Homo sapiens: one gene and its partners. Changing the gene in region 2 together with the main gene of any one other region gives a genetic interaction. Each region holds a gene or a part of one and is shown on either strand. Other genes may lie near its edges.

The links.
Region 1: changes in MED4 (region 2) and ACTL6A together harm fitness more than expected from each alone (negative genetic interaction), as found in Homo sapiens cells (one large-scale study listed by BioGRID).
Region 3: changes in MED4 (region 2) and GEMIN5 together harm fitness more than expected from each alone (negative genetic interaction), as found in Homo sapiens cells (one large-scale study listed by BioGRID).

What each region holds. Positions count from the first base shown.
Region 1 is NC_000003.12:179,572,836-179,576,493, reverse strand, and holds part of ACTL6A (actin-like protein 6A), read right to left. Parts: intron 3,126-3,658; coding exon 3,025-3,125; intron 2,125-3,024; coding exon 2,027-2,124; intron 278-2,026; coding exon 183-277; intron 1-182.
Region 2 is NC_000013.11:48,085,064-48,088,721, reverse strand, and holds part of MED4 (mediator of RNA polymerase II transcription subunit 4), read left to right. Parts: intron 1-2,269; coding exon 2,270-2,440; intron 2,441-3,658. UniProt on the Homo sapiens protein: Component of the Mediator complex, a coactivator involved in the regulated transcription of nearly all RNA polymerase II-dependent genes.
Region 3 is NC_000005.10:154,886,799-154,890,107, reverse strand, and holds the end of GEMIN5 (gem-associated protein 5), read left to right. Parts: intron 1-690; coding exon 691-787; intron 788-1,730; coding exon 1,731-1,898; 3' UTR 1,899-2,697; downstream 2,698-3,309. UniProt on the Homo sapiens protein: The SMN complex catalyzes the assembly of small nuclear ribonucleoproteins (snRNPs), the building blocks of the spliceosome, and thereby plays an important role in the splicing of cellular pre-mRNAs.

The DNA of each region.
Region 1 (3,658 bases), on a different chromosome or scaffold from region 2:
ATAAATAAAGCCATGCATCAGTTTTAAATATACATTATATACTAAAGATTTTTAACATACTTAAAAAAAATCTTATTCAGAAACTGATATGCTTTAATAGTGCTACTCATCATTTTATTTCATTATGTGCATCCTCATGGCATCTAAAATCATCTCAGTGTATCCTGGTTAAATACATTTACCTTGTTGAAGGACATAGCCATCGTGGACTGGAATTGCAGTGGTATGAGTGGCTCCACTGTCCAAAATCAGCCCAGTAGAACGACCATTAGCAAATCTAGTTTAAAACATTAAGGAAAAGAAAGTATCAAGGCCGCTAAAATAATGTTTATTGTAAAGGGCAGGCTCTTATAATGTTTCAGAAACTATTTCTTAAACATGTACCTTATAGTTAAAAATGTATTACAGTGAATCTAGGGATAAAAATTGGTATAAAATAATATTTCTGGCTTAAAAACAAATAGTAAGAGGCAGGAATTCCAGAATGGAGGTATCAGGCACTCAGGGAAACCTTTATCCTAGGAACAGCTACTATTAAGCTGGTCAAAATTAACACAATCACTAAAAGTCTCTGGAGACTGATCAAAGAGCTTACAACAAACTGAGATGCATTTATTTAACAAAATATACAGAAACTTGGTAAGAACAGTGGGAGGTTGTGATAATTGAGCTAGGGACTATAACCATTCTCACATAGCATTGAAAAAGAGCTGTTTCAGCAGTTTGGCAGCCATATGGCAGTTCCTATCTCCTCCAACTCAATGAGCGGGAAAACTATTCCAGGTGAATTCCACAGTTGGTAAATATTGGCAGATCCCATTTTCCACAGTTCTGTGCTGCAGATGGCCTATACTACCTGAATATACTAAACTGATGTTTAGGAGTAGGGACATTCACTCATTCATCAAATATTTACTGAGCATCTATTAGGTGTCTACTAAGTCTGGTGCTTAATAAGGAGGGAGGGAGGAAGGAGGGAGGCTGCTCACCTGGCACTAAAATTCCTTTAACACAGTAGACACACAATGGTGCACCAAAACTGCCTTTTCCCTGAAGGTTATCCTGTTTAGTGAAGTAGATGATGAATAAAGCTGTAAAAAGAAAAGCTCAGGATGTCCCAGGGAAGATGGTGATGTAAAAGGGAAACCTATTCCTGAGATATTCAATAGTAAAATCTGGGGAAGGGAATATGGGCAAGAGTAGGAGCATGTGGGAAGACCAAGAAGCAAGAGAACACAGCGAGGTCAGAGAACTGCAAGTACCTCAGCACGGTCTGAAAGTAAAATAAAGGAAGAAATGTAGAAGACGATTCTGGCTTAAAGCAGACTAGCACTTTAGAAAGATTATTAGAGGCTGGGCACGGTGGCTCATGCCTGTAATCCCAGCACTTTGGGAGACTGAGGCAAGCATATCGCTTGAGTCCAGGAGTTCGAGAGCAGCCTGGGCAACATGGCGAAACTCCATCTCTACCAAATAAATAAATAAATAAAAATAGAAAGATTATTAGAGCAACAGCGTAAAGAATGGGCAGACAAGAGGACGTGCTTCAGTAATCCTGGAAATAGCTTCCACCTAATGCTGTGGCAGTAGGACAGAGAGAAGCAAATAGCAGGGAAGAACAGGCAGGATTTGATGACTGACTAAATTTGAAGGAGAATGAATTTACAGCCAATTTCCAGTTTTCTATGATATTGGAAGGGAAGGAGATTTTAAAATGGCAATCTTTCAATTCACCTAAGCCAACTGGTTAAAACATTGCCTTCTATCCACATGCCCCTTCTTAAAAACAAAAACAAAAACGTCTTAACACTCAGAATTTGAGTGTTATTTTATTTCCCTCATACCTTCTGGTGTATCATCAGTTCTAACAAGAAATACTAAAAGATGAATAGCTAAAAAGCAAGAGAAAAGGGAAAAAAACAACTTCGGAACAAGCAATAATTGGCGTATGTCTTCTCCCAGAGTTATCATATTCATTAGTATCGTACATACTTCAAGAGGAAAGGTATTACTCTTTCAAGGATACGCTGTCAAAACTGCAGTTTTGCAAAGGAAGAAGGCAGGGATGTTGTAGTGTTCAAACATTAACTCTGTCAGTTTCTCTCTCTTTGCTCTAGTATTCCACTTGAGAAGAGGGGAAAAAGAAATGCAAGTTATTAAGAATTAAAAAGTTGATTTATCTCCAGATAAAATCTAGCACTATATTAACAAAGATATAAAACATTAAGAACAGAATAAAATACCATGGGAAATCATCTTTCATAATATCTCATAAAAATAAAAAAACCTCTATAATATTTATTTCTTTAGATGTAGATTAAATTTAATAAATCTATCAGAGAAGAATTAAAATTCTTTAATAATAAAATTGCTCCTGACTTTTCCACATATGAGGAAACCAGGATTCTTATAAACATATTATTAAATCTAAAGAGTAAATATGGTAATCCAAATCCTAAGTATGAATTTTAGACCACCAAATTCTCCCACTTATAGTTGGTATTCATAAAAGAATACTGTAAGTTAGTAACAATAAGATACTGATAATTTATGACCATTATGCTTGCTTTCTGGGACCTTTTTGTCTATGTACCAAATGTATTTCACAAGAGACTTTGGTCCAGAAATTTCCAGCCCTTGTTCAACATCTCAATTCTTTCTTGGAAACTTGAATAAAAGTAGATATACGCTGCCCTTGGGGCACAAGAAATGATTCATAATTCAAAATGGGAAGCAGTCCTAGGAAATAAAATGTTAAACAAATCCCTAGAAATACATAAATAACCACAAGAATCCATTAGGGTGTTTTGTTGTTCTCTGGATATTTTATTTATTGGAATAGTAAAATAAAAGTTATAATAGTGTTAAAAAATTAATCCTTTTCCCTAATTTTCAAATTCAAAATATGAATTTCTATGCCTCTTTAAAGAAAAATGTTCATCAAATGAGTAGAAAACTAAAGGAAAAAAAAAAGAAAAAAAAAAAACAACTAGAGAAACGTGAAAAAGAAAATCTTTATCTCACCGGTGCCTCTGACATGAGAACAGGATGGAGACTGGCTTCTGATTTGACATGCATTTTGTAGGTATGATCCAAAATAGCTTGGAAACTATCCCAGTCTTCAACTAGAATATAAGATTAGTAACTTGGAAATAATGCATAGTTGAAGATGAATATAGCATCTTTTGAGAAATTGTTTCTATGACTTAACAATTAATACTTTAGTATACAGAACCTACTGATTTTACAGATCAACTTCATACCACATTACTTTATATAGAGATTACCTTTGCCTTCTAGATATATAGAACTTCTTTTTGGTCCCTCCAGCCCCCAGACCTGTCCCAAATGTAATTAATCTAACAGACCTAAAATATGAAGTAAATGTTATTCAATTCAATAAATACTTATTAGAGGCCCAGAATGTGATCAGAATGATAATAGGAAGTACAGAAGAATTGTATGGCCTTCTGATGATACTACTGCTGGATTTATAAAAAAAAAAAAAAAAGAAAGAATTGTATGGTCTAGACCCGACACTCAAAAAAACTTACAATCTATTTGGAAAAAGACTAAAAGACATGTTAAAAATTCAAAGAAGAGCATCTGTCTTCAATTTGGCTTCCACCTAAACATTCCATTAAAACTACTGACATAA
Region 2 (3,658 bases):
TAATGGTGAGTGGAACCAGAACCTAGGTCTTCTGACTTTAGTTGAATAATTTTTTTCTACTGAACAATAAGATCTAAAGAGAATATTTTTTACTCATGGGTAGTATACAAATTAATTCAACCTGTGTAAACTTCTTGAAAGTTGTCAGGGAACTACTGTGTACTACTTGCTTTAATAATACAGCTTTTATAGAAATGGAAACCTAGCTTTCTCCTACGATGTGGGAGGAATGAGGATTAGAAGTCTGTTAAATAAATAGAATATACTTTACTTTTTACAGAAAAAGCTTTCTGTTGTTATTTAAAATACTCTTAATATTTGGCAGTTTGTAGCTCAGTCTTTTGTCTATTGTATTAGAAGAATTCCTATAAAATGAGAAGAACTTCATGTCAAAAGGATCTTGAAGAGGCATACCTGTACTTTTTAGTCTTCAACAAATCTTTTTAAATAGTTTTAAAATTGATTCTGAATTTTGATAGATATTTTCTTTCTGAAGTAGTATTCTCTACTTAGCACAGTAAAGGATATTTAGACTAGACTTGCATCTTAATTCTGTACTGGGGTAGTGATCGTAATAACTAGCCTTTGCTGAACTCTTCCTGTATGTACTTAAAGTGCAATATATCATGAATCCTCACAATAGCTTCATGTAATGGCTACTATTAATATTATATTCCTTTTCCTATTAAGAACACAGGCTCAGAGAGGCTGGTAACTTTCCCTGTGTCACACAGCTAGCAGATGGAGGACTAGAGATATGAACCACCAGACTTTCTATTTTATGTGTTTTAGCCTTCATGGTTTTTGCCGTATCTGCATACCACTTGTTTGTTTACTGTTTTATGAAATCACTGTATTTTTTTTTTTTTCCTGAGACGAAGTCTTGCTCTGTCACCCAGGCTGGAGTGCAGTGGCGTGATCTGGGTTCACAGCAACCTCCGCCTCCTGGGTTCAAGCAATTCTTCTGCCTCAGCCTCCTGAGTAGCTGGGATTACAGGCATGTGCCACCACCCCCGGCTAATTTTTATATTTTTAGTAGAGACGAAGTTTCACCATGTTGGTTAGGCTGGTCTCAAACTCCTGACCTTGTGATCCGCCTACCTCGGCCTCCCAAAGTGCTGGGATTACAGGCATGAGCCACTGCGCCTGGCCGAAATCACCGTATTTTTAAGATCATCTTCATTGTAAACAATACTGTGCATAAACTCAGAGTTTCAGTGTCTCAGTTTTTTCTAATATATATTAGCACAAATGTGTAAGTGTAAAAGTTTTCTTAAGTTCTTGGTGCCACCTAAAATCATCTCAAATACCAAATTTTGGGAGAACTTTCATTATTTATATATACATATATATATTTGCGATGGAGTTTCGCTCTTGTTGCCCCGGCTGGAGTGCAATGGCGCGATCTCAGCTCACCGCAGCCTCTGCCTCCGGGTTCAAGCGATTCTCCTTCCTCAGCCTCCTGAGTACCTGGGATTATAGGCATGCACCACCACGCCCAGCTAATTTTGTATTTTCAGTAGAGATGGGGTTTCTCCATGTTGGTCAGGCTGGTCTCGAACTTTTGACCTCTGGTGATTCGCCTGCCTCGGCCTCCCAAAGTGCTAGGATTACAGGCGTGAGCCACCGCGCCTGGCCTATATTGTATTTTTAAGGATAAACTTTTTTTTTTTTTTGAGACAGTGTCTTACTCTGTCACCCAGGCTAGAGTGCAGTGGCGTGATCTTGGCTCACTGCAACCTCCACCTCCCAGGCTCATGCAATTCTCCTGCCTCAGCCTGCTGAGTAACTGGGATTTTAGGCGCCACCACACCCAACTAATTTTTGTATTTTTAGTAGAGATGGGGTTTCACCATGTTGGCCAGGCCAGTCTAGAACTCGTGACCTCAAGTGATCTGCCCGCATCAGCCTCCCAAAGTTCTGGGATTACAGGCATGAGTCACTGTGCCCAGCCATAAGGATAAACTTTAAAATCGTGTCTTCCCTAGGAAATCACTAAACTTGCTCATGTTGCCATATTGCTAGTTCTGAAAGGCTAGTTTTATTTTGTTTTGTATGAAAGAATATCTGAAAAAGTAGAAAAGTTTGATATTAATGTTTCCCAAAATAATCATAGGTAGGCTCTTTTTATTCTTAACAAGAATTAGGAATAAAATTTTGAAGGTGTTGAAATTTATAGCCTAGCCAATTCAGTTACGGATTCTTTGTTTCATTGGAATGCAGCCTTTCAGTAGTCTATTGTCTGATTTAATTGACTGTTATCTGACAGGTCCTGGAGTTGTTAATTCACCGAGATGGGGAATTTCAAGAACTAATGAAATTGGCACTTAATCAGGGAAAAATTCATCATGAAATGCAAGTTTTAGAAAAAGAAGTAGAGAAGAGAGACAGTGATATTCAGCAGCTACAAAAACAGCTAAAGGAAGCAGAACAAATACTGGTAAGTTGACAGAGGTTGGTTCTTAAGGTTAAAAAGGATGTTGTTTAATCTGTTTCTGAAAAATCTGTTATCAATATTTTGAAGAGCAGAAAACTAGACTTTCCAAGTCTAAAGGTGATATCTTGTCACTCACCATTGCCAGTGGTTAAATGAAAGGCTATTGTCATTCTCTTTTTTACTTACTGTTTTCAAATAGTCTGCATTACTTGTGAGCCACATTTTCGATGCTTAAAGATTTTACAGTATTGAATTATAGAAATGGAAAGTTTTACTTTTATCCTGGTCTGATATAAATTTTAATTATCAGTAGTCTAAATCTCTCTTTTTTTTTTTTTGGTCTCTGATCCTTAGCATAAAAATCAGGGAAATTTTTCATTTTTTATATATTTTGAAATCAATAAAAATATATACACATTTTATAAATTGATTAAAATTGACATTAATTTAGTCATTCATCCTCATCTAGGTAGGATTTGGACATAGATCAAGGATCCTAGTTTTCCCTTTGCTGTTCTTGGCTACTATTTCAAAGAGGCAACTTATTTGCTATTATTTGCCCAGTTACTTCACTAAATACTAACTAATATAACATGATAGTATTGCAGAAATAGCTGAGCTTGATTCTCATGTCGACCAGACATTGCTGGCATCCTTACCACTGATTAATCTCTTAACAAATGTATTAAAATGAGCTCCAGTAACTAGAAGCCTGGGCAGTTCAGGGTAAATTAATCACCTCTACTAAGGAAACAACTCACTAGTAAATAGTTTTTAAAAATATATTAAAATCAGGCCGGGCATGGTGGCTAATGCCTGTAATCCCAGGGCTTTGGGAGGCCAACGCAGGTGGATCGCGAGGTCAGTCTGTGATTGAGACCAGTCTCAGTTCGAGACCAGTCTGGCCAACATAGTGAAACCCTGTCTCTATTACAAATACAAAAAATTAGCCAGGTGTGGTGGTGTGTGCCTGTAATTCCAGCTACTCAGGAGACTGAGGCAGGAGAATCGCGTGAACCTGGGAGGCATAGGTTGCAGTGAGCTGAGATTGCGCTATTGTATTCCAGCCCAGGCAACAGTGCAAGACTCTCAAAAAAAAAAAAAAAAAAAAAAATTAGCTGGGCACAGTGGCTCACACTTGTAATCCCAGCACTTTGGGAAGCCAAAGTGGGCAGATCACCTGAGGTCGGGAGTACAAGACTAGCCTAGTCAACATGGTGA
Region 3 (3,309 bases), on a different chromosome or scaffold from region 2:
ACATTGGAACCCTTGTGCCTATTGGTGGGAATGTAAAATGATGCAGCCACTGTGGAAAACAGTACAGCAGCACTTCCTCCAGAAATGTAAAATAGAATGACCATAGGATCCAGCACTTCCACATCTGGGTATACACCCAAAAGAATTGAAAGCAGGGTCTGAAATATGTGCACACCTGTGTTCATGGCAGCATTATTCATAATACCCAAAACACGGGAGCAACCTAAGTATCCACTGACAGATGAATGGATAAGCAAAATGTGCCATATCCATACAATGGAATGTCATTCAGCCTTACGAAGGGAGGACATCATGCTGAGTGAAATAAGCCAGTCACAAAAAGACATATACTATATGACTCCACTTATATGAACTACTCAAAATAGTTAAATTTATAGAGACAGAAAGTAGAATAATGTTGACAGGGGCTAAGGGAAGCAGAATGAGAAGTTAATGTTTAATGGGTATAAGATTTCAGTTTTACAAAATGACAAGAGTTTTTGGAAATGGGTGGTGGGGATGTTTTTCACCACATTATGAATTTATTTAAAATCACTGAACTATGTATTTTTAAATGGCTAAGATGGTAAGCTTTATGTTATATACATTTTACCACAGTAAAATAACAATGGGAGAAAAATGTTACCCAGGGCAAGACATACAATTTACACCTTTTATTTTTTTCACTAGTAAAGAAGAAAAAAATGAGCCACTTTCTCTGCCTGAGTTAACCAAAAGGCTTACCGAGGCAAATCAGAGAATGGCGAAATTTCCTGAGAGCATTAAGGTAAGAGTTAAAGCAGTTCATTTGGTAAAGCATCACTTTTTGTGTTATCACTTGACTATACCACATTCTTATAAAGGTCAGCTACCTCTCTGTTCAGTTTCTAAAATCTCTACCCATTCATATGTGCTTAAGAATTTAGAATCCAGGCTGGGCGTGGTGGCTCACGCCTGTAATCCCAGCGCTTTGGGAGGCTGAGGCTGGCGGATCATGAGGTCAGGAGATCAAGACCATCCTGGCTAACATGGTGAAACCCCGTCTCTACTAAAAATACAAAATATTAGCCGGGCGTGGGGGCAGGTGCCTGTAGTCCCAGTTACTCGGGAGGCTGAGGCAGGAGAATAGCATGGAGGCAGGAGAATGGCGTGAACTCAGGAGGCGGAGCTTGCAGTGAGCCAAGATCACGCCACTGCACTCCAGCCTGGGCAACAGAGCGAGACTCTGTCTCAAAAAAAAAACAAAACAAAAAAAAAGAATTTAGAATCCAATTACTTTGGTTAGCTAGAATGTTTTGTGAGACTAGAATTATCGATCACACAAGTAATTTTATACCTCAATCTTCAGAGAAACCAAATAGATTTAATAGGTAAGAAGTAAAATTTAAATTGGTGCCATGTATTAGATAGCTTACAGATGGACAGGTCTTTTTGGCTGTGGGCCCAAATATTAATAGAAGCACCATTTTTAAGGGTGGATTTGCATAGGGCTGTAGAAAGAGATTGTGCCATTGAGAAGGACATCGCAGTAGCCATCCTAGTTTTGAGTGTCATTTCTCCTTGGAGTAACTGTTGAAGAGAAAGACAGGACATTGCCTTAGGAGACAGCTGGCTCAGCTGTGTCCAAGAAGTGTCTATAGATGAACCTGAGTGACTGGTGCCTTCTGTGCAGGTGTTTGTGGCTCTTCTGCAAATGCTTCCTTATTCATCCTCATGTCATCGTCTTTCAGGCCTGGCCCTTCCCAGATGTGCTGGAGTGCTGCCTCGTCCTGCTTCTCATCAGGTCCCACTTTCCTGGCTGTCTGGCCCAGGAAATGCAGCAGCAGGCCCAAGAGCTCCTTCAGAAATACGGCAACACGAAAACTTACAGAAGACACTGCCAGACCTTCTGTATGTGAATTTTCACACACCTTGAAGAAACTGCCAAATTGAAAATGTTTGACATCTTTCACCTCTGCAGTTATGCCTCACCAGACATTCACTCTGGTCCCTAGATGTTTTTGCAGTAATCCAAAAGAATACAAACAAGGATTAAGTTTGAATCAACCCTGCCTACCCATAGACAACGGTGGATCTGACTTTAGACTCAATTGTGGTCTCCTACTGGAGGGAAGATCATGAAAAGCCCACAGTAGTTATTCAGAACTAACACCTGCAGAGTGTTGGTCATCTCTACAGCCTTAGGCAGGTTTCACCCAAAGAGGAGAAACTTCTGTCGTCACCCAAAGTGTTACATGCTTAAAACACAAGCTACCTTTGTAAATACTTCATCTGATCAGAAGTGTGTCATGCTTGTTTGAGATGGAGTTGCTGCATTTTAGGACTATTGATACCTTTTTTTAATTGTTTTTATAATATTTAATTTGAAAGAGGAGACCCTTCTCTCTCTACTCTTTCATAGACTGAAGTTTGAATATGAAATAGGCCTTAACCATCATGTTGACTCTCCTGTCAGAATTTTAGGTTGGAAATTTGGTTTTATTCTTTCATGTAATTGCTTATTTGAACAGATCACTTACTAAAGCTTTAGAAGAAGTGATTCAAATGTGTGTTTTCCCTTCAGTTTTATAACAAATGGATTGATGGCAGTCAAATAGCTCAGGAATAAATTACTGTTTCAATGGTTCTTAAACTTTCTTGGATCATAGGATCCTTTTGAGAATCAGATTAAAGCCAAAGATACTCTTTGGAGAAAAATGCATATTCCTAATTTTGCATAGATGACCTTTGGATTATTGGACTCTGACTATTGGGACCCTAAATACTATTTAATTATAAATCTTTTTTTTCTCCTCCTTGGTTATTTAAACAGTTGAACAGTGTCAGGAACAGATGTTTCTGTAATGTCACAGTTGCTAGCATGGGAAAATCAGAGTCTGGCATGGGTGTAGGAAGGAACACTCCTTTCAGATAATTGAACTGTTTTCTCTAGGATTCATTGTGAAGGCTTTTCTGCTCACGTTTGTAGTTTATTTTTCAATTAATTCCTAGGATTGGAGCTGTTGGGACAGTGAGAATGAAATTCATTTACAGGAAGTCCCAGGAAGGAGAAAGTTTGAGGCAGTTTTCAAAGACGTGTATGTGCCTAGCATTAGAGTTTAATAAACTCACAAAGGGAAATACTGTAGAATTTAGATCCTCACAGTTCTTCATACAGTGAAGTGAACTTTAGGAAGACGATGCTTTGTTACCAGGGATGGAGAATCTTTCTTGATTGCAAAGACATAAATAGGCATGGCTAGGTAGAAAACCTAGCCTAGTTGGTAGGACACCAGTTCTACCAACTGCTAAAATGAACTTTACTTACAG